Linked DNA regions of Homo sapiens: region 1 is linked to region 2. The links come from fine-mapping of genetic effects on gene expression. Tissue or cell type: whole blood. Region 2 holds a variant in brackets; the other region holds the start of a gene. All regions are shown on one strand. Distances are from middle to middle. Region 1 holds the start of CLHC1 (clathrin heavy chain linker domain containing 1). Region 2 overlaps CLHC1 (clathrin heavy chain linker domain containing 1).

Region 1 (14,686 bases), 25 kb before region 2:
CAAAGTGCTCAGAAATAGGAAACCTTATTTAAGGATGCCTCCAACTAGAAATCCTTGAATGGAAAGACTGGCAATATGGTAAAAGTGAATTGTTATTTATACATCACCGATTTCTTTCAAGTGTATGCTTTAGTTAAGAGGCTTATCAAGTGAACCAGCTTTCCCTGAATTGAGCTCCGAAGGAAGATAGGCTACCCCAGTCCTGCTTGAAACTAAACTGTCTTTTACTGTTAACAGTACAAATAAGTAATCATTCCTTTATAGGGATCCATCCTGAACAAACATTAAATTCCCAAGCGTTGTACAACAGACAGCAAGCATTCCACTGAAACACCCAGAGACTGAGGATGCATTTTGTTTTTTTTGGAAGCAGGGTTTTGTCCAGGCTGAAATGCAATGCATAATTAATTACAACTCCTGGGCTCAAGGGATCCTTTTGTCTCAGACTTCCCAGTAGGCAGGACCATAGGAGTCAGCCTACTTTTTTTTTTTTTTTTTTTTTTTTTACAGAGATGGGGGTCTTGCTATGGTGCCCAGGCTGCTCTTGAACTCCTGGACACTCAAGTGATCCTCCCAAAGCATAGGGATTACAGGCACCCCACAACAAAGAATTACCTGGCCCCAAATGTCTGTTGTGTTGAGGTCAAGAAATGGACAGAAACACAAACTGGCTTATATTTAGACAACTTACATTAAATATAACTTCTGCCAAAGTATAGGTAGTCTAAGAATTGAAAATATCAAGACCTTTACAAGTGGTTGGCACCTGGCAGGTATACAGAACCACTGGGTCACATAATCCCCAGAGGCAACATTCACACAGCGATAGCAGTAGCACTACTAAAAGGAAATGGTGTGACCATCAATTTGGTGCTTAAAAACCATTCTTTTTACTGCAATAAAACCCAACAATAAATGTTAGTTCATGTCTTTTATTAACTCATACAGTTACTTGTCTTCTGGTTTGTTGAAACAGTAAGTCAGACAACATTTGCCACAATAATGTCTGTCAAAGTGACTTGCCATAAACACCCCAGCACCACATTCATCAGAAGGGCACTCTCGACGAAGGCGACTAATTTTGCCATTCTCATCCACCTGAAAAGCACAAACCTGCTGTTAAGATAATTTTACAACACATTCTGAAGTCTAATTTAAGTGACTCAAAATATTTAAGCTTTTAACTGTGTAATACTGGTGGTTTTGGTGCTTACAAACCAAAGCACCCTAAATTCTCACCAGTTATCATTGCTACAATGAAAACATTCAGAAGTCTTGGGACTTTTGAACACTAAAGGCCAGCTTTGCAAGTGGTAGACAAAGGTAAAGACCTGAACCCAAACCCGACTTTAAACTCAGAACCCTATTACATAACTGATTTCAAATACCAAACAGGAAAAACCCCAGAAAGTCTGAATTTCTCATTTCCAGAATACCTCATTTAAACCAAAGTGGGATAATATTGGGTGTTTAAGTCCAAGAAAATATTGACAAGTACTATAAAGATTAAGTTTTCCAAATAAGCCAAGACTTTGCTGACATTCTGCCCTTTAACTGGCTCACCTTATAATATTTCAGGACAGCCAGCTTAACCTTCTTTCTCTTGTGCTTATTCTTCTTGGGAGTGGTGTAAGACTTCTTCTTCCTTTTCTTAGCACCACCACGAAGTCTCAACACAAGATGAAGAGTAGACTCCTGTTAATGGAAGAATGAAGCAAGCTTTCATGATTCCACTAAGAATGGGCACACCCAACATTATGCATTTTCTAATTAAAAGCAGTAGCAGCACACAATAACATTTGAGGGAATCTTGCAGCCCCCAAACCCAATAAAGTATCAGATTCTTAACTGACAGTTTATAGGGACATTAAAGAATGCATTACATTACACCATGGGATACAACTTGCAAAATTCATAATGGGAGAACTATAGCAGTGCTTCTCAAGTATCAGTATAGGAGTTACCTAAAAATCTACTGCTATTCGAATGCCATTTTCCCTTTTTGTGTGTCAAAATGTCCAGAATACACCACATGGAGTGGCTCACGTCTGTAATCCCAGCGCTGGGAGGCCACGGTGGGAAGATCACTTATGCCCAGGAGTTTGAGACCAGCCTGGGCATGGTGGCGGGTGCCTATAGTTCCAACTACAGGAGGCTGAGGTGGGAGGACCACCTGAGTCTGAGAGGTGGAGGTTGCAGTGACTGCGCCACTCACTCCACCCTAGGTGACAGAGTCAGAGCCTGTCTCAAAAAAAGTAAAATAAAAAATTTCCAAAATAACATTTTTTTTTTAAAAGAGGCTGCTCTTCCCCTAGACAGACCTTTTGAATATTGTAGTCAGACAAAGTACGTCCATCTTCCAGCTGCTTGCCAGCAAAGATCAGTCTCTGCTGATCAGGAGGAATTCCTAATGACAAAAAACAAAAATTAAGTCACAGCACACCAAGCCTGTGATGTGCTCCAGACTTATAAGGTAACACCCCTTAATCAAATACATGATACTAAAGGCTGACAATAAGCCCTTACTAGAGGTTAGGCATGGTTCTAAATCTTTACATGTCACATTTTACCGCATTTAATATTAGGGACAATACTTGGTTGTCTGCAGTGGCTGACACCTGTAATACCAATACTTTGGGAGGTCGAGGTGGGCAGATCACTTGATGTGAAAAGTTCAAAACCAGCCTGGCCAACAAGGTAAAACCCAGTCTCTACTAAAAATACAATAAATTAGCCAGGCATGGTGGTGCACGCCTGTAATCCCCACTAATAGGGAGGCTGAAGCACAAAAATCACTTGAACCCGGGAGGCGGAGGCTGCAGTAAGCCGGGACAAGCGAATGCACTCCAGCCTGGGCGACAGAGGAGACTCCATCTCACACAAAATAAATAAATAAGTGTCCAAATTCACGCAAGTGAAATACACCTCAAGGATTCCAATCTAGGTACTGTGCTCCCCGATCACCAATGTCTATTGTGTTATTCCACAAGTATTTCGCTTTGTCAATCTGACCCCTTCCCCCATCACCAAGAGCAGGTATGTCTAGCACCTACAGGTAGGCCGAAGTCTCCGCAGGTTAAGTTTTCTTAACTACAAAATACTACTTGCCTTCCTTATCCTGGATCTTGGCCTTTACATTTTCTATCGTATCCGAGGGTTCAACCTATGAGTGTTAAAGTGAAAGCATGTTGGTTACACATTAAGGAACTACAGCAGAACTCATTTAGTTTGACAATTACCACTGAACCGAACCAGCGACAGGGCTGAGACCTACTCGAGAGACCTATTACCCACCCAGTGGGCAACCTCCCAAGTCGGCTACCGGAAAGCACCTTCATCTCCCCAGCCCAGAGCGGGCGGCGGCCGCAGGGCCACACGTGCTCGCACCCGGCGGGCAGAGCGTCTCCTTCCCCACCGCAGCTCCTCCGTTTTAACTAACTAGCTGGAACCCCTCGAGAGGAGACAGGTCCAGCCTTTGGCCACCGAAAATCACCTCTAGGTCGTTGCTCAGCAAAAGGTACTCATTTCAAAGCTTAAGTTTTAGAACCCAAATTCGGAATCATGGTCTAAGACATGGAAAGCAGCGCCGGTCCTAAAATCCACCTCAGGACCTTATTCGGACCTTGGCTTCCTCATGACCACCCGGCCCGTACCTCGAGGGTGATGGTCTTCCCCGTAAGGGTTTTCACGAAAATCTGCATTTTGGTGGCGGCTCCACCTGAGGTTGAGGAAAAGGAAGAGACAGGTTAGGTCAGGGATCACAAGAGAAGGCACCATAGGGTGCTAACCCGAGAGCAGCCGAAGTGCAGACACCCACCGCAGATGGCGGATCGAAAAGGAAGAACGCCGCGCAGGCCCACGGGGTTTCCCGGAGCTCCCGCCGAAGGACCCACCCCTTAGGCGACCACACCAAATGCCTGACTGCCGTCCCAGCGACAATCCAACCCGGTGCCAGACTAGGACGTGAACTTCGTTTCTCCTCTCCCTAGCCTGGGCTTATTTCTCACTTTAGCCTTCGGAATGCTTTCGAAACTGTAGGTTTAAGCAACGTAAAAGATGTTTTAAAAAGGCTTTTCCCGTACAATCAACGTGGCTAAGAGAATTTTTAAAAGGAGGTCGAGGGGGGCCTCTTGGGGAAGAGGTAGGAAATGGAAGTGCATTCTGGGAACTGTAGTTCTCCACTGCTTTCTTCTACCTTGGACTACTTGTCCCAAGATGCAGTTCCACCTCCCAGATTCCCTAGTTACTATCTCTAAGCACTGAAGTCGGTGTTTGGAGAAAAGGACTCAGGTGAGGACTGGAGGTAGGATGAAGCGGAATAATGGTTTCCGGAGCGTGGGAACGGGCCGGAAGTGACTAGAGCAAATGTTAAGCGGGGGGCAAAGGGTGCGGGGCACGAAAGGTGTCCTTCACTCACTTCCAGAAGCGGTGATGGGCAGAGAATCAGCAATCTACCAGACGCTCCTTGGGCCTTCAAGGGAAGGGAATTTGCGTGGCCTGCTCCAGGCAAACTGAAAAATAGGTGAAATCTGCGGAAGCGGGGGTTCAGCCCTTTCTCTCCTGTAGCGCCTCCCTGCTTTCAACCGCCGAGTCTCTCCCAGCCTAGGGAAGAGTCTGGGTCTTGTGTGTCACTCCTTAGTGTGACACGCTTTAATATGTTGAAAAATCTCAGGAGTTTTCAAATTTTAAAGTGAAGCCGTACGGAAAAGAAACCTGCAGAATGGTTATTTAGTTGTAGAATTTCCAAATTTGGGCATTGGGAGTCTTGGATCTGAGAGGAAGTTTTTGGAGTATGTATGGGGTGCTTCTTCCGGCAAGGAGGCCAATTAGAAGCAAGTTCTCCCTGTCCTTTCTCCACTCCACAAACCAGAGTCCTTTCTAATGTCTTCTGTATTTATTTCTTCATCCTCTGCCCTCTGCGACCCCATCCCCAAATTCAGACCTTAATTTTCTCTTGTAGGGGTTCCGAATCTAACTCCTTATCTCTCTCCAGTCTTTCCTCCTTTCTAACCCACCTTCACTATTGCCTCCAAAATATTCATTCTGAAAGGTAAATGTGTGTTATTATTTTATACCTCACCTTCAGGATACAATTCAAATTTCTTAGAATGACATTCAGCCTCTGCCTTCCTTACAACCTAATCTGCTAAACCCATTACTCTACATTTTAGTAAATGAAGCTAATTTAATTTCCTGACCTATGCCCTCCCGTGTTTTGGCATTTCTGAAGAATCCAGTCGTTTATTCTTCCTGGAACTTTTTTTTTTTTTTTTCGTGAGACGGAATTTCGCTCTGTTGCCCAGGCTGGAGTGCAGTGGCGCGGTCTCGGCTCACTGTAAACTCCGCCTCCCAGGTTCAAGCAATTCTTCTGCCTCAGCCTCCCGAGTAGCTGGGATTACAGGCGCCCACCACCACACCCGGCTAATTTTTGTATTTTTAGTAGAGATGGGGTTTCACCATGTTGGCCAGGCTGTTCTCTAGCTCCTGACCTCAAATGATCCATCCTCCTTGGCCTCCCAAAGTGGTGAGATTACAGGCGTGAGCCACCACGCCCTGCCTCCTGGAACATTTTTCATCCCCTAGTCCGCCAACTAGTCTCTACAACAAAATTTCCTAGAGTTGCTTGTACATATTGTCTCTAATCTTTCCCTTCCGTTGTCTGAACCCACTCCTGTCAGGCTTTTGTCCCCACCATTCTGATCGGATAGCTCTTGTAATGGTCACTAATGACCTCCATGTTGCTAAATTCAATGGTCATTTCATCTTATTTGATCTGTCAGCAGTATTTGACACAGTTGCTCATTCCATCTCTCTTTGAAAACCTTTCAAAGACTTCACCTCTCAGTTTTTCTGCCACCCTGGAGGCTCTTTTCCAGGCTCATTTGCTGCTTCCTCTTGATCTGCAAGACCTCTAACCATGGAGTATCCCCAAGGCCCAGTCCTTGGACCTCTGCTTTGTCTGCATTTTCTTGGTTATCTCATTTTTGTTTAATAACTTTTAAAGTATCATCATATGCAAATGACTCATAAACTTATCTGTCAGACCAGATATGTCACAGATATGTCACAACTTCATCTTCACATATCCAGCTATCTACTCAACATCTCTAATGGACAGGCCCCAAACACTTAATCTCATGAAATTGCTCTTCCCATGTTTATATATGGCAATTCCCATTTCTCCAGTCACTAAGGCCAAAAACTTTATGATTATCCTTGACTGTTCTTTTATATCCCACATCTTATCTACCTTGGCAGATCTTGGCTTTATTTTCAAAATATATGCAGAACACTTCCTACCACCTCCATTGTTAGCACCCTGATTCAAGCCACCATCATCTTTTGCCTTGATTATTGCAGTAGCTTCGTAACAGCACTTCCAGCTTTGACCCTTGCGTCCTATAATCTGTTTTCCACAGAGCAACAAGAACAATTCTTTTTTTTCTTTTTTTTGAGATGGAGTTTCGCTGTTGTTGCCCAGGCTGGAGTGCAATGGCACAATCTTGGCTCACCGCAAACTCTGCTTCCCGGGTTAGGTGATTCTCCTGCCTCAGCCTCTCCAGTAGCTGGGATTACAGGCATGCGCCACCACGCCCAGCTAATTTTGTATTTTTAGCAGAGACAGGGTTTTTCCATGTTGGTCAGGCTGGTCTGGAACTCCCGACGTCAGGTGATCTGCCCGCCTTGGCCTCCCAGAGTGCTGGGATTACAGGCATGAGCCACCATGCCTGGCCAAGAACAATTCTTTAAAATGTTAAGTCAGCTCTCCCACTCTTCTGCACACAGGCCTCTAAAGGCTTCGAATCTCACTCAGAGGAAAGCCTAAATTCTTACAAGTGAGGCTGTTGCTCCAGTGCTGGAACAAGTAGAGGCCACAGTCCAGTGTTGCTCCTCTTGCCAAGTCTGCCCAGAGAAAGGGACCTCTTTTTCTAAACCGCACAAAGGTACCCCCTAGGCTGATAGTAGTTCTGCCCTCAAGACCCTACATGCTACATAATCTGGCAGTTACCTCTCTGATCTCATCTCTTCTCTCCCTTTCTCATTCTCTTCTAGCCCCACGGGCCCTCTAGCTGTTCCTCAAATGTGTTGTCCCACCCTGAGGCCTTTGGACTGGCTACTCTCTTTGCCTCAACCACTCATCTCCCAGGAATCTACATGACCTGCTATTTTCAGATTTCTGAAATGTCACCTTATCAGTAAGCTCTTTTGTCTTTCCTGACTTACTGCCCTTATAGAAAATGGTATCCTCCCACCTTCCTTACTCTCTATCCCCCATACCTTGTTTTATTTTTCTTCATACAACTTAACCCCTATCTGTCATACTATATTTCTATATATATATAATTTTTTTCTTTCTTTTTTTTTTTTTTTTTTTGAGACAGAATCTCCCTCTGTCGCCCAGGCTGGATTGCAGTGGTATGATCTTAGCCCACTGCAACCTCCACCTCTCTGGTCCAAATGATTCTCATACCTCAGCCACCTAAGTAGCTGGGATTATAGGTGTGAGCCCCTGCGCCCAGCTAATTTTTATATTCTTTAATAGAGACTGGGTTTTGCCATGTTGGCCAGACTGATCTCAAACTCCTAACCTCAAGTGATCCACCTGCCTCGGCTTTCCAAAGTGCTGGGATTACAGGCATGAGCCGCTGTGCCTGGACTATTTTTTTTCTTGTGTGTTGTCTGTTTCTACATGAATGTAACCTTTGTGAGATTAGGGACTTTGTTTTGTTCAATACTGTGTCTCCATTGTCTAGAATAATGGCAGACAAACAATAGGTGTCCCCCAAATATTGAATAAATAAATGTAGCACAACTTAAGCATTGCCCTAGATTTTGTTTTACTAGATGTTTTCCCTAATGTTTCCTTGCCCCCTTCCGTAGGCTGATGAGATGCCCCTCTGGCCTTCTGTAGCCTATTGTGCTTACCTCTGTCACACTGCCTTTTCTGCTTTGTAGCAGTGGCTCATTTACTAGACCTGGAACACTTGACTGGGAACCCTTGTGACTTGTCAACACATCCCTAAATGTCTAATATGAATGAATGAATGAATGAATGGTAATCTTGGTTGGTTTATGTAACTCAATGGCATTTTGTAGATGTTAAGGAACAATCCCTTTAGCTGTGTTCTGGTTTGAGAGCACCACAAGTCCAATGTCTTATGAATAGACTAGATTATTGTTCAGTGATTATTGATTATTCAGCAAACATATGTTTGAGTACTGCTCTGCTAGAAACTGCATTATGCACTTGAATGCATATGGTAGAGGAGGGATGATGGGGAAAGAGAACATTTTGTTTCCTGATCTTGTCACGCTTACAGCCTAACAGATGAGACAGAATATAAACAGGAAGTCTCTAAGGCAGTGTGGTGGAAGGATAATACCATGATGGAGGAAGTGCACAGTATTATGGGAGAACATAGCAGTGGCATCTGACCAATTTTAAGGGAATCCAGGACAGCTTTCCTGAAGCTGAAGAAAGAGTAAAAGCCAGGTGAATCAAAGTGATAGTATGTATGTGTTTTGGGGGTTGGGGGTAATATAGGAGGATGGTCTGCAGGGAGGGGGAGAGAATTATGTAAGATCCTAAGGTAAGAGAGGAAGTTCATGGGTGTGGGAATGGGGATATGGGGCAAAGGACAGGGACATGAAGAGAGTAAATTTGGTCAAAGAAAAAGAGTCATTAGTTTCTGAAGGGCACTAATAGGCCAAGTAAAGGAACTTGGATTTTATCCTAAGGGTAATACGGTAGGAAGCCACTGGTGTCCAAATGTCACTACCCCCTCTCTAATGATAACACCCGTTTCTTCCTCTTTTGACTTTTATCTTTTACTTTTTTTTTTTTTTTGAGATGGAGTCTTGCTCTATTGCCCAGGCTGGAGTGCAGTGGCTCAATCTCGGCTCACTGCAACCTCCACCTCCTGGGTTCAAGTGATTCTCCTGCCTCAGCCTCCTGAGTAGCTGGGATTATAGGCGTGTGCCACCACTCCCAGCTAATTTTTGTATTTTTAGTAGAGATGTGGTTTCACCATGTTGGTCAGACTGGTCTTGAACTCCTGATCTCGTGATCTGCCTGCCTCGGCCTCCCAAAGTGCTGGGATTATAGGCGTGAGCCACCGCGCCTGGTTATCTTTTACTATTTGAAATTATTTATTTATAGTTTGTCTCCCCTACTAGATCATAAGCTTCAAGGAGCCAGGGACCTTATCTTACTTATTGCCGAATTCCTAGCTGTGAAATGGTGCCTGGTGCTTTGTTGACACTCAATAAATACTGACTGAATGAATGAATAAACAAATGTATTTCTCATTTAGGAAAACTTGATTAATTAATGAGTTATTCCCTTGCTGGAACTACTTTATATTAATTCATAAATTGACTTTTTGCTATCCAGTTCATCAACATGAAGATAATTTTGGCCTTTTAATCTTCAGAATTATTTTGGTGTCTCCTCTTCTGTATATGGCTATGGGCAGTATTTACAGGCTGTATATGTTATTCACATAATCAGGTATCAGTTATATTGCCAGAACATGATACAATTGATTGAGACACTTACTTATCATGGCATTGTTTATATTAGTGAAAATAGCAGCCAGGTGCAGTGGCTCATGCCTGTAATCCCAGCACTTTGGGAGGCCAAAGCAGGCTGATCACTTGAGGCCAGGAGTTCAAGATCAGCCTGGCCAACAGGGTGAAACCCCATCTCTACTAAAATTACAAAAAATTACCCAGACATGGTGCCCTGCACCTCTAGTTTCAGCTACTCGGGAGGCTAAGGCAGGAGAATCACTTGAATTCAGAAAGTGAAGGTTGCAGTGAGCTGAGATCGTGCCACTGCACTCCAGCCTGGGCGACAGAGCAAGACTGTCTCAAAACAAAACAAAAATAGTGAAAATATCTGACAATGGGGGAATAAATTAATGGAACATCATACTATGAAATACTGTGTAAGCTTTAGAAGTCATGTTTTAAAAAACGATTTAACAACATGAAAAAGTGCTTTTAATATTAAGTGAAAAAAATGGGATGCACAACTGAATATAGAGTTTAATTTCAAGTTTTGTAATGTTTGGAAGGAAATATTCCAAAATATTAAATAGATATTTATTTCATTAATTTTGTCTGGTTTATATTTTCCGAATTTTATACCAGGAGTATGCTTCTGTAATTAGGGAAAAAGTTACGATGTTGCCTTGCCAGCCATTATTAAGCAAGCCAAGAGTTCTGTTTGAAGTTAATGTGACTAAATCTTAGGCACCAACTTCTGTATCCAACTTCAGTTGGACAATTTTTTTTTTTTCAGTAAAAACTCTTTCTCTTTTTTTTTTTTTGAAATGGAGTCTCGCTCAGTTGCCCAGGCTGGAGTGCAGTGGTGCGATCTTGGCTCACTGCAACCTCCGCCTCCCGGGTTCACGCCACTCTCCTGCCTCAGCCTCCTGAGTAGCTGGGACTACAGGCGCCCGCCACCACACCCGGCTAATTTTTTTGTACTTTTAGTAGAGACGGGGTTTTACCATGTTAGCCAGATGGTCTCGATCTCCTGACCTCGTGAACCGCCCGCCTCGGCCTCCCAAAATGCTGGGACTACAGGCGTGAGCTACCGCTCCCGGCCTTTCAGTAAAAATTCTTTATTCATTCCTTCATCACGTGACAGTTGGCCTTGAGTACTTACAAAGACAGCAGTTCCTGCCTCTCAGAAATCTAAGCAGACATTCCAGAGCTCACAGATCAGTGCCCCACCAACTGCTACCTGGAAGCTTCAGGGAGATGGGGAGCCTGGAGGAGGGGATGCTGCAGGAACCCCCTGGCACGCAGTGGGGCTGGGCTTCGAAGGCATCCAGGACTGAATTCGAGGTGGCAGGGGGCAAGCAGGCAGGCAGCGTGACGGTCATGAGGTGCGGGGTGAGGGCAGGAAGCCCACAGCATTCCTGACTTGGGGTCAGGGGAGACAGATTGGAGGGGCCCGAGATGAAGCCAGAGCTTACAGAGAGGCTGTAAGCCAGCACTCAGCTTCCCGGGAGACCCCAACCACTGCCGGGTCCAGAGTGCCCTGGGAGAATGTCAGGTACCCAGATGTTTCAGTGGAAGATTCCTTTTTCAAACATTAGCTGGTTCTTTGGATTTTTAATTATAAACATAGTACATGATCAAGGTTAAACCATTTTCCAAGCATCACATAAGGATGGGAAGTAATTCTATCCCGCTCTAGACCTTCCAGATTGGCTCCAGAAGGCAGCTGCTGTCAGTGATTTTCCTTACAGACCATTGCAGCCACCTACCTTGCGCCATGGTCCCGAGACAGCATGGCGTCTTCCCCCACACGGACCTGCAGGTGGCCTCTTAGGAGCTTTCTCGCTGAAGGAGGTCATCCCTCTTAGTCACATCTGAGCAGCACTCACTTAGGCCTCGGCCCCGAGGGTCATGCGGGGGCACCTGGCCGGGTTCCCGGCTCTGTCTGGTCTGGCATCTGTCTGCCTTTGGGCTACCTTTTCGGCACAGCTCCCTGGGCCTGTGGCTGCTACAAGCTGGACTCCAGCTCCCCTGGGCTGCAGTGCTGCTCGCAGTGGTCCAGAAAAGAGGCTGGGCACAGCGGCTCCTGGCTCAGCAGCATCCTTGGCGCAGGCTGGCCCAGGAGCTCCGTGCAGGGTGCTGCCAGTTGACCCAGCCCCGGCTGCACTCAATGTCCGAGAACCGGGCTGGCTGGGGGGCCTCTTTGACGGAGCTTTACTCCAAGTCTTGCTGAATTTCCTGAGGAAAAGCACTGATGTTCTCATGGACACAAGGGAGGCAGAATCTCTTGAAGTAGAATAAACTGCACTCCTTTCCAGTCTTCCTTTCTCAGCTTCTCCTGGACCGCCAGCTCCTCCATGCGCCTCAGACACTCCCAACGCCGCACTGCGGGGGTTCCTCCCGCCCTGGCCCATCTCATCCCCCTTGGCTGTTGATACAGCTCCCCTGTGTGCATGTCGCCCTGTGGCAGATGCTCAGGGACTTCTCAGACTCCAGGATCACTCCGAGTACACTGGCCACACAGCCTGCTGCACAAACTGCAGCGCCAGCTAAGGACCAGGAATCTGACATTGTCGGAGGTGAAGGGATCCTTTGTGACATAGCTTTCCTCCAGGAGGACCATCCACTGGGTGTCGGGGGAGCTTCTGCCCCAAGTAGCAGGAGGGAGCTGTCAAGGCGTGGAGTTCACACTCAAACACTCCCAGAGGACGGCACTCTGCATGGGACGCCATCCAGCTCCTTTGACTGTGGAATCAAGTACATTATCAGCTGGCCCCTGGCTCCTGGCTGTGACCTCCCTTCGCTTGAACTGAGCCTTGTGTGTAAGGGCGTATCAAGTTGTATGGGCTTCGCCGCTGGGTGACCCCAAATGCAACTCCAGGAAGCATGGGTTACCAATGACTTTAAGGTTAACGATCAGCTGGGCGCGGTGGCTGACGCCTGTAATCCCAGCACTTTGGGAGGTCGAGGCGAATGGATCACGAGGTCAGGAGTTCAAGACCAGCCTGGCCAACATGGTGAAACCCCCATCTCTACTAAAAATACAAAAATTAGCCGGGCGTGGTGGCGGGCGCCTGTAGTCCCAGCTACTCAAGAGGCTGAGGCAGGAGAATCGCGTGAACTCGGGAGGCGGAGCTTGCAGTGAGCTGAGATCTCGCCGCTGCACTCCAGCCTGGGCGGCAGAGCGAGACTCCGTCTCAAAAAAAAAAAAAAGTTACGATCCGATCGCGGGTGTGCGTGAACCTGACCCTGCTTCTCTTCTGAACACCGGGGCGTCCTAGGCCCCTGCCGAGGCTCCTGGGGGCGGTGCCTGTGAGCAGGGACCGCTGAGCGGGTCCGGGGGCGCCAGTGGTCCCCGCGAGCCTCCGCGCGCCCTCCCTCGCCCCAGAGCCGTCTGAGGTCGGGGGAACCGTCCCCCGAGGCCGACACGCCGCTCCTCCATCCGGTCCCCAAAGCCGAGAGCGGTCGCGCCGACCCTTGGCGCTCGGAGCACAGCAGGCCACGCCGGCGCGGAACTCAGTCCCGGCGAGCGGGAGGTGCCCTGAGGCTGCGCGGGGCCGGCCCACAGCGCGCTCGCCCCCGCCAGGCCGCCGCCGCCCATGATTCTTTACTGAAAGCGGCATAATGCGGCTGCTTGAAAGCTATACTCTGAAAAATACTGTTACTTTTGACATCATTGAGGGATGGATTTTAGCAGAAGTCCGGACCTCTTTTTGCTTGGTACTTTAATATTAAAGATGAGAATTAAAATAAAGTTTATTATAAAAATAAATACATTATTTATTGCTATTGTGTGCTGGGTGAAGCTAGGCCAGATAAGCGCCGGGGTCGTAAAATAGTTGACCTTGTTTGTGTCAAGAGGCTTACAAATTAGTTTTCCCACATGACACAAATAAATATAAAATACCAAACCTTCTATTAGAAAGTGTGAATTATACATAAGAAACCATCGATTATATGATACATGTGAGAGGAGTTGTGCATAGTTAGCAAGAGAAGAGCTCTTCATTGACTGGTGTTTGGTATTTCTGTCCCAGAGCAGCAGCATATGGCAGTGGAATAGCATAGACTTTTTTTTTTTTTTTTTTTTTTTTGAGACAGTTTCGCTCTTGTTGCCCAGGCTGGAGTGCAATGGCGCGATCTCGGCTCACCGCAACTCCGCCTCCGGGGTTCAAGCGATCCTCCTGCCTCAGCCTCCCGAGTAGCTGGGATTACAGGCATGCGCCACCACGCCTGGCTAATTTTGTCTTTTTTAGTAGAGACGGGGTTTCTCCATGTTGGTCAGGCTGGTCTCGAACTCCCGGACCTCAGATGATCCACCTGCCTCGGCCTCCCAAAGAGCTGGGATTACAGGCATGAGCCACCACGCTTGGCAGCATAGACCTTTTAATACATAGGTTGAAGTATTTATCACAGAGACAGATAGGAAATTTTTTTCTAAAAAAAATACATTTTTAGATCAATATTTGACTTAAGTTAAAAAATTATTATATTAATTGATGCTCTTTTTTTCTTTCAGGCTTATCAAAGTTTTGGCTTTGTTGCAAGAGCAGGTCAAGATTTAGCTGTTCTTCAGTGAACAAGTGTGCAGATTGTCAAATATGTCAGTTCATCAAATAAGAAAACATGCAGTTCTCCCACCTATCATTTGTAGAAGTGACAAGGAATTTTTGGAAAGTGTGCAAAGATACATAATTACAGAAACTGAAAGACTGGGCTGTAGTGAGGAAGGACCTGCTGATGAATATTACATCATATACCGAAATGTTTTTGATAAGGTATCATAAAGCTTTTAAGACAATTAAGTTTTCATGAGGATAGCAATGATCTATGTTGACAACCAATATTCCTGCCTTAGTAACACCACTGTTTGAATGATAACATTCCATTTGCTGATTTTGAGAAGTTCATCCAATTTCTCAGAAAGGCATGAATGGGAAAAATGCAATTCTGGATTTGTATTTCCTGACTGTGAATGAGTGTTTCAGTTATTTTAGCTTGAGAGCAGATTATAAGTTTCCTTTATATATTTTTTAAAGAGAGAGTCTCACTGTATCACCCAGGCTGGAGTGCAGTGGCACACTCATATCTCACTGCAGCCTCAAACTCCTGGGTTCAAGTTATCCTCTTGCCTCAGCCTCCTGTATAGCTGGGACTACAGACTTGTGCCACC
Region 2 (12,012 bases):
TAAGACTAGCCTGGGCAACATAACAAGACCCTGTCTGTATTAAATAAATGAATAAATAAATAAATAAATAACCTGCTAGCCATTCACAAGTTTATGCTAATTTTACTTATGTTCAGTAAGCTATAAGTACATACTATCATTTCTAAATTGTTTCTTAACATAGTGAACTGTCTTTCTAAGACTTGCTCTTTGAGCACAAGCGTCCCACACATGGCTTGTCGTGTTTGATTTGTTCCCTTTCCCCATAGGCATGACTCTTCAAGAATCCATGAATCTAGATGCTCTCACTAAATACATGAAACATCTTGAAGATAAATATGCAGAAATTAAACAAGCTATGTTGATAAAATATGTGCCAGCTCAGAGGAAGGCTGATTTAGATGAAGAAATGATTGTGTTATTAAAACGGCGAGATGTAGCTGAAAATCTGAACAAAAAATTGCAGTTTTGGTATGGAAGTTGATTATATGTTTTTAAAGTTTGGAGTTTTATTTGTGTTTATTCTAATATTCCACCATTTGATTTTAGGCTCAGTGTGTTATTGACGTTTTTTATCTTTTTAGTCATCAAAGACTGCAGATAATTTCACAGGCACTTAGTTCATGGGTAAAATCTGATATGAGCAGCCCATTTCAAGACTTTGTGGAGCAAATTCAGAAAACCAAATATTTACAAGGTAGATTATCTATATTTTTAAATTAGTACCAATAATGGAAGACATTTTTTTCGCTAGCTAGTTAGAATGGGGTTTTCTTAGGCTGAGTTTAAATAAAGCAAGATCATACTTCAGCTGGTTGTCTGTTACGCTATGGGTTTCTTCCTTCAACAGCTAACAGATAATTAGTAAAGAATAGACTTGGTGAGCCAAAGACAGAATGCCTGAAAATGTACATCAAAATAAAGAGGAGGCCGGGCACGGTGGCTCATGCCTGTAATCCCAGCACTTTGGGAGGCTGAGACGGGCAGATCACGAGGTCAGAAGATCGAGACCATCCTGGGTAACACAGTGAAACCCCGTCTCTACTAAAAAAAATACAAAAAATTAGCCGGGTGTGGTTGCAGGCACCTGTAGTCCCAGCTACTCGGGAGGCTGAGGCAGGAGAATGGTGTGAACCCGGGAGGCGGAGCTTGCAGTGAGCCAAGATAGGGCCACTGCACTCCAGCCTGGGTGACAGAGCCAGACTCCGTCTCAAAAAAAAAAAAAAAAAAAAAAAGAGGAAAGGGACGGGGAGGCCACTAAGTTTAGGAAGAGGTTGCTGCTGTTAGGAGCCATAGCAATAAGCTGTTGGTATTAAACACATGTATGTTTATTGTTTTCTATTGGTAAGTAACCTTAAATATCTTCCAGTAGTACTTTCAATATTTACAGGTGACCAAGGCATTGTTGAAGAACTAATGGAAGATGATCCACGCAGGGCAAAAGAAGCTGAAATTATGCTTCACTACATTGAAAGGCAAATATTTTAAAAGCTTTAATTTTTCAGAATTATATTTTTTCATAGATTCTTTGTGAATAACATACCAGATTGGGAATCTAGGAGATTTTTCAGAGGAGATAAGAGGATTATAATGTTGATATGTTTTATTTATACAGGTTAAGCATTCCTAATCCAAAAATTTGAAATCTGAAATGCTCCAAAATCCGAAAAATTTTGAGCACTGACATGAGATAGTGATACCTCTGTTTTGTGATAGATCAATATGTACACAAATTTTGTTTCATGCACAAAATTATTAGAAATATTATATAAAATTGCCTTCAGGCTATGTGTATATGGTATATATGAAATATAAATTTTGTGTTTAGACTTGGATCCCATCCCCAAGATATCTCATTATGTACATGCATATATTCCAAAATATGAAAAAATCTGAAATCCAAAACACTTCTGGTCCCACGCATTTAGGATAAGGGAAACCCAGCCTGTATTTTTCTTACATTTCCTAGCTATCAACCTGATGTTACAAAATGTTTTTGAGAATGTCTTCCTGATTCAGATTATTCTAGCCAATTCAGTCCTTTCTTTCTCATTACTTCTATCCCCTGACTTATTAAGGAGGCATATTTCTCCCTAATACTTAAGTTATTATACATAGTATATAAGATTAAAGAGATTTAAGACTATATTCTTTTTTACTTTGTTTACTTTTTATCAAACATTACTTTCATCAAATATTTCAAGTATACATAAAAATACAGACAATAACATTAACAAAATGTTATTCTGTGTACCAACTTAGCAAGAAATTAACATTTTGCCGTATTTACTTCAGCTCTTTTTGTAGAAGTTTGTTACAGTTGACATCCTACTGTGTATCATTCCTGCTATCTTCAATTCCTTTTCCCTCCTTTTTTCCCCTCACAGTTGCTCCCCTGGTGTTTAACATGCAGGAGCATTTTTAAACATTTTTAATACATAGTAAGACTATATTCTTTAAGAGGTTAATTCATAGGCTATGACGCTTATCTGTAATGAACATATGTAATATTCCTGGTCTTTATATGTTAAACAGTTTTCAACTGTTAATTGGATTGTTGGTATGGTAAAAAGAAGGGGGTAAATATAATTTTGGGCAGAGCACAAAAGCTCATGTTATTTCCTTACACTGTAATGCTTCTGTAAGTCTGACAGTTTGATATGAGAGAAAAACCCTTGTTGAGATTGAAAGTTTTATGTATTTTGCTTAATATTACTTTAGTGGGTTTTCCGCCTGGGGCTCCACATTCATTTGCAACACTGTGTAACTTCTGTTTATCATAGTTTTATTAATTGTGAGGTAAGGACTGATTTGAAGACCTTTTGCCATAGGAAGAGGAGTAGAGGCTTAAGTTATCTTAACTATTATCTTTCCTTCTTGTGCTAATCTTCGATTGGGAACCTGTTGCCTGGCAGAACAACATAGGCTTCTGAATACCAAGGACACCTCTTGATCTCCAGTTTGGCAGCTTCATTTTTTTTTTTTTCAGACGGAGTCTCACTCTGTCGCCCAGGCTGGAGTGCAGTGGCACAATCTTGGCTCACTGCAACCTCTGCCTCCCGGGTTCAAGTGATTCTCCTGCTTCAGCCTCCTGAGCAGCTGGGACTACAGGCACATGCCACCACGCCTGGCTAATTTTTTTTTTTTTTTGTATTTTTAGTAGAGACAGGGTTTCACCATCTTAGCCAGGATGGTCTCGATCTCCTGACCTCGTGATCCCCCATCCTCGGTCTCCCAAAGTGCTGGGATTACAGGCATGAACCACCATGCCCGGCCCAATTTGGTAGGTTCTATCTTCAATTAATATTTCCTTTAGGCGATGTTTCTAAGCAGATTGCCCTTCTTTCCTCTGATGCCAGTACTTTTTCATGTGGAGATGATATGCAGGGAAAAAAATCTGAGTTCATAATAAATTCAAGTTCTTTCTTCCATCCTCTATGGCTTGCTGTAAGTGCTATAGGAATAAAGTTTAGGATCATGTTCAAAGTCAGCTAGCAGGTGGGAGTTTTATTCTGAGACTTAAAAAAAACCCAACAGAGTACTAGAGAAGGATTTCAAGGAACATCTTACAGTGTGAATGATTCTAGTTATAGTTTATTAGAATTCCTTTTTGTTTTTCCATATCGTTATGCCGCTATATTTAGTCTGTATTAAACATTTCTAATCAGTTTTTTCTCTTTTTCTTTGTGTCATTATAATGCATTTTAAAATGTGATGGCTATAGGTTTAATGAGTTAATCTCACTTGGTGAATATGAAAAGGCAGCTTGTTATGCAGCAAACAGTCCTAGAAGAATTCTTCGAAACATTGGTACAATGAATACATTTAAGGGTAAGCATTTCTCTCTGAACCTTATATATGTATGAAAATTTACTACTTTTTCTCTCATAAAATAGAAAAAGCATTAAACTGGGAGACTAAAGATCTAGGCCCCAGCCCTATCTCTACCATTTACTCAGTTTGCTTAGCAGTAACATTAGGGATTTGATTAGATTTTCTAAATTACATTATGAACGATTTTAAGTATACAGAAAAGTATGGAGAAACATTAACACCCATGTACTCACTATCAAGATTTAATAAATGTTAATACTTTGTCAAATTTGCTCCACATCCTTTTAAAACACAGCTTCCTTGTGGTAAATTGACATAATACAACAAATTGTACATATTAAAGTACACAATTTGGTAAGTTTTTTTTTTTTTGAGACAGAGTTTCATTCTTGTTGTCCAGGCTGGAGTGCAGTGCACAGTCTTGGCTCACTGCCACCTCTGCCTCCCAGGTTCAAACGATTCTCCCGTTTCAGCCTCCCGAGTAGCTGGGATTACAGGTGTGTGCCACCACACCCATCTAAATTTTTTGTATTTTTAGTTGAGACAGGGTTTCCCATGTTGGCCAGACTGGTTTCAAACTCCTAACCTCAGGCAATCCACCTGCTTTGGCCTCCCAAAGTACTGGAATTACAGGTGTGAACCATCGTGCCCAGCCCAATTTGGTAAGTTTTGACATATGCATACACCCATGAGATTATCACTCAAAAGTTCCCTCATGCCCCTCAGTATCCCTCTCTTCCTGCTACTTCCTAGTTCTCTCGCCCTAATTTATTTTACTTAGGATAATGGCGTTCAGTTTTATTTTATGGCTGAGTAGTATTCTGTGGTGTGTGTGTGTGTGTGCGTGTGTGTGTGTGTGTGTGTGT[A/GTA]TTTTCTTTATCCAATCATCCCTTGATGGACACTTAGGTTGATTCTCTGACTTTGCTATTGTGAATAGTGCTGTGATAAACATAATGAATGCAGGTGTCTTTTTCATATAATAGTTTATTTTCCTTTGGGTAGATACCCAGTAGCGGGATTGCTGGATTGAATGGTAGTTCTATTTTTAGCTCTTTGAGAAATTTCCATACTGTATTCCATAGAGATTGTACTAATTTACATTCCCACCAAAAATGTAAAAGCGTTCCCTTTTCTCCACATCCTCTCCAACATCTGTTGCCTTTTGACTTTTTATTAATAGCCATTCTGATTGGTGTAAGATGGTATCTCATTGTGATTTTGTAGTTCCCTGCTTTGTAGATTTCCCTGCTTTGGGCAGTATGGCCATTTTAACAATTTAACTATTTTTTTTAACCCATTAAACAGCCCAACTCCCCCACCCAACTCCCCTACTACCCTTCATAGCCTCTGGTAACCATCCTTCTACTGTGTTCATGAGTTCAATTGTTTTTATTTTTAACTCCACCAACAAGTGAGAACATGTGAAGTTTGTCCTTCAGTGCCTGGCTTATTTCACCTAACATAATGACCTCCGGTTCCATCCATGTTGTTGTAAATGATAGGATCTCATTCTTTTTTATGACTGAATAGTACTCCATTGCCTATACGTACCACATTTTCTTTCCATTTGTCTGTTGATGGACACTTAGGTTGCTTCCAAATCTTGGCTATTGTGAATAGCACTGCATTAATCATAGGATTGTTGATCATATGGTATAATCATAGGATTGCTGGATCATATGGTAACCCAAGTTTTCATTTTTTGAGGAACCTCCAAAGTGTTTTCCGTAGTGGTTGTACTAATTTACATTCCCACCAACAGTGTACAAGGGTTCCCTTTTCTCCACATTCTTGCCAGCATTTCTTATTGCCTGACTCTTGGATAAAAGCTACTGTTTTAAGTGGGCTGAGATGATATCTCATTGTAGTTTTGATTTGTATGTCTCTAATGATCAATGATGTGGAGCACATTTTCATATGCCTGGTTGCCATTTGTATGTCTTCTTTTGAGAAATGTCTATTCAAATCTTTTGCCTTTTCTTTTTTTGACAGAGTTTCCCTCTTGTTGCCCAGGCTGGAATGCAATGGCGTGATCTCGGCTCACCACAACCTCCGCCTCCCAGGTCCAAGTGATTCTCCTACCTTAAACTCCCTAGTAGCTGGGATTACAAGCATGCACCACCATGCCCAGCTAATTTTGTATTTTTAGAAGAGATGGGGTTTCATCATGTTGGTCAGGCTGGTCTCTAACTCCTGACCTTAGGTGATCCACCTGCCTTGGCCTCCCAAAGTGTTGGGATTACAGGTGTGAACCACCTCACCTGGCCATCTTTTGCCCATTTTTAATCAGATTATTAGATTTTTTTCCTATGGAGTTGTTTGAGCTCCTTATGTATTCTGGTTATGAACTCCTTGTTAGGTGGGTAGTTTGCAAATATTTTCTCCCATTCTGTGGGTTGTCTCTTCACTTCGTTGATTGTATCCTTTCTGTGCAGAAGCTTTTTACCTTGATGTGATCCCATTTGTCCATTTTTTTCTTCAATTGCCTGTGCTTATGGGGTATTATGCAAGAAATTTTTGCCGAGACCAATGTCCTGGAGAATTTCCCCAATGTTTTCTTGTATGGTTTCATAGTTTGAGGTCTTAGATTTAAATATTTAATCCATTTTGATTTGGTTTTTTCTATGACAAGAGATAGGGGCCTAGTTTCATTTTTCTGCATATGGATATCCAGTTTTCCCAGCACCATTTACTGAAGAGACTGTCTTTTCCCCAGTATATGTTCTTGTCACCTTTGTCAAAAGTGAGTTCACTTTAGGTATGTGCATTTGTTTCTGGGTTCTCTATTCTGTTCCATTGGACTGTGCATCTGTTTTTATTCCATTACCGTGCTGTTTTGGTTACTATAGCTCTGTAGTAGAATTTGAAGTTAGATAATGTGATTCCTCCAGTTTTGTTCTTTTTGCTTAGGATGGTTTTTGGCTATTCTGGGTCTTTTGTGGTTCCATATAAATTTGGGAGTTGATTCTTCTATTTCTGTGAAGAATTTCATGGTATTTTGATAGGGATTGCATTAAATCTGTAGATTGCTTTGGGTAGTATAGACATTTTAACAATACTGATTCTTCCAATCCATGAATATGGCATATGTTTCCATTTTTTGTGTGTCCTCTTCAGTTTCTTTCATCCGTGTTTTATAGTTTTAATTGTAGAGCTGTTTCAGTGCTTTGGTTAATTCTAGAGCTGTTTCAGTGCTTTGGTTAATTCTAGGTATTTAATTTGTGGCTATTATAAGCAGGATTACTTTTTTAAATTTCTTTTTCAGATTGTTTGTTGTTGGCATATAGAAATGCACTGATTTTTATATGTTGATTTTGTATCTTTCAACTTCACTGAGTTTATCAGTTCTAATAGTTTTTTTTTTTTTTTTTTGAGATGAGTCTCACTCTGTCACCCAGGCTGGAGTGCAGTGGTGCAATCTCAGCTCACTACAACCTCTGCCTCCCAGGTTCAAGTGATTCTCCTGCCTCAGCCTCCCGAGTCGCTGGGCCAACAGGTGTGCACCACCATGCCCAGCTAACTTTTTTGTATTATCAGTAGAGACGGAGTTTTGCCATGTTGGCCAGTCTGGTCTTGAACTCCTGACCTCAAGTGATCAGCCCGCCTTGACCTCCCAAAGTGTTGGGATTACAGGTGTTAGCCACCATGCTTGGCCTCTAATAGTTTTTTGGTGGAGTCTCTAGATTTTTTTCTTTTACTTTTTTTTTTTTTTTGAGACAGAGTCTCACTCTTGTCCCCCAGGCTGGAGTGCAATGGCGCGATCTCAGCTCACTGCAAACTCCGCCTCCTGGGTTCAAGCAATTCTCCTGCCTCAGCCTCCCGAGTACCTGGGATTACAGGCACCTGCCACCAGGCCCGGCTAATTTTTGTATTTTTAGTAGGGACAGGGTTTCTCCATGTTGATCAGGCTGATCTCGAACTCCTGACCTCAGGTGATCCGCACACCTCGGTCTCCCAAAGTGCTGGAATTACAGGCATGAGCCACCGCACCCAGCTAGGTTTTTTTTTTTTTTTCAAATATAAGATTACATCATCAGAAAACAAAGATAATTTAACTTCTTCCTTTCCAATTTGGATGCCCTTTATTTCTTTTTCTTGTCTGATTGCTTTAACTAGGACTTCCAGTACTGTGTTGAATACCAGTGGTGAAAGTGGGCATCTTTGTTGTGTTCCAGATCTTACAGGAAAGGCTTTCAGTTTCCTCCCATTCAGTGTGATTCTAGCTGTGGTTCTGTCATATATGGCTTTTATTAGTTGAGGTATATTCCTTCTATCCCCAGATTTTTTTCTGGTTTTTATCATGAAGAATGTTGAATTTTATTAAATGCTTTTTCAGCATCTCTTGAAATTATCATATGGTTTTTGTCCTTCATTCTGTTGATATAGGATACATTACATTGATTCATTTGTGTATGTTGAACCATCCTTACATCCCTAGGATAAATCCCACTTGGTTATGATGAATGATTTTTTTAATGTGTTATTGGGGTTTGCTAGTATTTTGTTGATGATTTTTGCATCAATGTTTATCAGAATTATTGACATGTAGTTTTCTTTTCTGATGTGTCTTTGTCTGGTTTTGGTATCAGGGTAATACTGGACTTGTAGAATGAGTTTAGAAGTATTTCCTCTGCCTCTATTTTTTGGAATAGCTTGAGTAGGATATGTATTAGTTCTTTTTTAGATGTTTGGTAGAGTCAGAAGTGAAGCCATCAGGTCCTGGGCTTTTCTTTTCAGGAAGACCTTATATTACAGCTTCAATCTCATTACTTATTGGTCTGTTCAGGTTTTGGATTTCTTCATGGTTCAATATTGGTGGGTTGTATGTGTCTTAAGAATTTATTCATTTCTTCTAGGTTTTCCAGTTTATTGGCATATAGTTGCTCATAGTAACCTATAAGGCTCCTTTGAATTTCTGTGGTATTGGTTGTAATGTCTCCTTTTTCATCTCTGATTTTATTTACTCAGGTCTTCTCTCTTTTTTTCTTACTTAGTTTGGCTAAGGATTTGTCAATTTTTTTTTTTTAAACTCTTCATTGATTTTTATAATTGTTTTCTTCATTTCAATTTCATTTATTTCTGCTCTGATCTTCATTGTTTCTTTTCATCTAAAAACTTTGGGTTTGGTTTACTCTTGCTTTTCTAGTTCTTTAAGATGCATCATTAGGGTGTTTATTTGAAGTTTTTCTTCTTTTTTGATGTAAGCACTTATAGCTATAAACTTTTTTCTTAGTACTGCTTTCATTGTTATCCTATAGGTTTTGGTATGTTGTGTTTCCATTATTGTTTGTTTCAAGAAATCTCTAAATTTCCTTGTTAATCTCTTCATTGACCTGTGTATGGTCAGTCAGGAGCGTATTGTTTAGTTTCCATATTTGTATGGTTTCCAAAATTCCTCTTCTTATTGATTTCTAGTTTTATTTCACTGTGATCAGAGAAGATGCTTGATATTATTTCAATTTTTTGAATGTTTTAATACTTGCTTTGTGGCCTAACATATGGTCTTTCCTTGAGAATGACCCATGTGCTAAGAAGAAGAATGTGTATTTTTCAGCTGTTGGGTGATACGTTCTGTAAACATCTATTAGATCCATTTTGTCTATAGTGCAGATCAAGTCTGATGATTCTGTGTTGATTTTCTGTCTGGATGATCTGTCCAGTGCTGAAAGTGAGGGTGTTGAATTCTCCAACTATTATTATATTGGGGTCTATTTCTCTCTTTAGCACTAATAATATTTGCTTTATGTATCTGGGTACTCCAGTGTTAGGGGCATATATATTTACAATTGTTATGTCCTCTTGTTGAATTGACCCCTTTATCATTATATAATGACTTTCTTTGTCTCTTTTTATAGTTTTTGTCTTGAAATCTATTTTGTCTACTTCTGCTCTTTTTTGGTTTCCATTTGAATGGAATATCTTTTTCCATTCCTGTGTTTTCAGTCTATATGTGTCTTTAAAGATGAAGTGTTTCTTGTAGGCAACAGATCATTGGGTCTTTTTTTTTTATCTACTCAGCCACTGTTTTTTTTTTTTTTTTTTTTAAGACAGTCTTTTTCTGTCACCCAGGCTTTAGTGCAGTGGTATGAACACAGCACACTGCAGTCTCAACCTCCTGGGCTCAAGTGATCCTACCATCTCACTCACCCTGTCAAGTAGCTGGGATCACAGGCATGCACCACCACACTTGGCTAATTTTTTAAATTTTTGTGGAGACAAGGTCTCACCATGTTGCCTGGGCTGATCTTGAACTCCTGGGTTCAGGTAATCCTCCTGCCTTGGCCTCCCAAAATGCTGAGATTACAGGTGTGAGCCACTGTGTCTGGCCCACTCTATGTCTTTTGATTGGAAAGTTTAGTCTGCTAACATTCACTTGATATTAAGTAAGGACTCACTCCTGTCATTTTGTTATTTTTTGGTTGTTTTATGGTCTTCTCTTCCTTCTTTCCTTCCTTCCTGTCTTTCTTTTAGTGAAGATGATTTTCTCTGGTGGTATGTTTGAATTTCTTGCTTTTTATTTTTTGAGTGTCCATTGTATGCTTTTTGATTTGAGGTTATCATGAGACTTGCAAATAATATCTTATAACCCATTATTATAAACTGATTACAACACTGATTGCATAAACAAATAAAAAACTAACAAGCAAAGAGAAAACTAATAAAAATTCTAGACTTTAACTTTGTCCCCTAGCTTTTTAATTTTTTGTTGTTTCTATCTATATCTTATTGTACTGTCAATGTCTTGAAAAGTTTTTGTAGTAATTATTTTTGATCAGTTCATCTTTTAGCCTTTCTACTTAAGATATGAGTAATTTACACACAATTACAGTGTTATAATACTGCCTTTTTTGTGTGAACTTACTATTAGCAGTGAGTTTTGTACCTTTAATTTCTTATTGTTCGTTAATATCCTTTTCTTTCTGATTGAAGTACTCCCCTCAGCATTTCTTTTTTTTTTTTTTTTTTTTTTTTTGAGATGGAGTCTCACTCTTTTGTCCAGGCTGGAGTGCAGTGGCATGATCTCAGCTCACTGCAACCTCCACCTCCTGGGTTCAAGCAAGTCTCCTGCCTCAGCCTCCCAAATAGATGGGACTACAGGTGCACCCTGCCACACCCAGCTAGTTTTTTGTATTTTAGTAGAGATGGGGTTTCACCATGTTGCCCAGGCTGGTTGTGAACTCCTGAACTCAGGCAGTCCTCCCACCTCGGTCTCCCAAAGTGCTGGGATTATAGGCATGAGCCACTGCACCTGGCCACCTCAGCATTTCTTAAGGGACAAGTATGATGTTGATGAAATCCCTCAGCTTGTTTGTCTGGGAGAGTCTTTATTTCTCCTTCGTGTTTGAAGGATATTTTTTGCCAGATATATTATTCTAGGGTAAATGTTTTTTTTCTTCAACATTTTAAACATGTCCTGCCACTCTCTCCTGGCCTGTGAGGTTTCCACTAAAATGTCTGCTGCCAGACATATTGGAACTCCATTGTATGTCATTTATTTTCTCTTGCTGCTTTTAGGATCTTTTCTTTATCCTTGACCTTTGGGAGTTTGATTATTAAATGCCTTGAGAGTCTTCTTTGGGTTAAATCTGCTTGCTGTTCTATAACCTTGTACTTGAATATTGATAGCTTTCTCTAGGTTTGGAAAGTTCTCTGGTATTATCCCTTTTTTTTGTTTTGGATTTTTTGAGACGGTGTCATGCTCTGTCACCCAGGCTCACGTGCAGTGGTGTGATCTCGGCTCACTGCAACCTCTGCCTCCTGGGTTCAAGCGATTCTCCTGGCTCAGCCTCCTGAATAGCTGAAACTACAGGTGTGCCACCATACCCAGCTAATTTTTGTATTTTTTAGTACAGACATGGTTTTGCCATGTTGGTCCAGCCAGTCTCAAACTCCTGACCTCAGGTGATCCACCCTCCTCAGCCTCCCAAAGTGTTGGGATTATAGGCGTGAGCCACCACACCCAGCCAGGTATTATCCCTTTGAATAAACTTTCTACCCCATCTCTGTCTTTCTACCTCCTCTTTAAGACCAATAACTCCTTGATTTGCACTTTTGAGGTTATTTTCTAGATCTTGAAGTTGTGCCTTATTCTTTTTTATTCTCTTTTCTTTTGTTTCCTCTCACTGTATATTTTCAGATAGTCTGGCTTCAAGATCACTAATCTGCTTGATTAATTCTGCTGCTGAGAGACTTTGATGCATT

The links. PIP is the estimated chance that this variant, and not a neighbour inherited with it, causes the effect.
Region 1: it holds the start of CLHC1, and the variant in region 2 is the best candidate, but not a certain one, in a credible set for the expression of CLHC1 in whole blood (INTERVAL, PIP 0.57).

What each region holds. Positions count from the first base shown.
Region 1 is chr2:55,221,840-55,236,525 of GRCh38, reverse strand. CLHC1 (clathrin heavy chain linker domain containing 1) reads left to right here and starts at 4,233. Exons shown (of 13, transcript NM_152385.4): 1 at 4,233-4,303; 2 at 8,322-8,494; 3 at 14,033-14,291. The coding sequence starts at 14,115. It overlaps RPS27A (ribosomal protein S27a), which reads right to left and starts at 3,838. Exons shown (of 6, transcript NM_002954.6): 1 at 3,818-3,838; 2 at 3,654-3,718; 3 at 3,109-3,163; 4 at 2,322-2,407; 5 at 1,564-1,695; 6 at 673-1,098. The coding sequence starts at 3,701. The coding sequence ends at 949. It also overlaps the pseudogene CDPF1P1. RefSeq lists enhancers at 3,559-3,738, 3,759-4,188 and a silencer at 12,748-13,127.
Region 2 is chr2:55,198,068-55,210,079 of GRCh38, reverse strand. It overlaps CLHC1 (clathrin heavy chain linker domain containing 1), which reads left to right. Exons shown (of 13, transcript NM_152385.4): 6 at 249-450; 7 at 564-676; 8 at 1,370-1,454; 9 at 3,704-3,810. Among named protein-coding and RNA genes, the nearest start is that of CLHC1, 28 kb to the left of the region's middle. The variant A/GTA (reference allele first, on the strand shown) is at 4,680.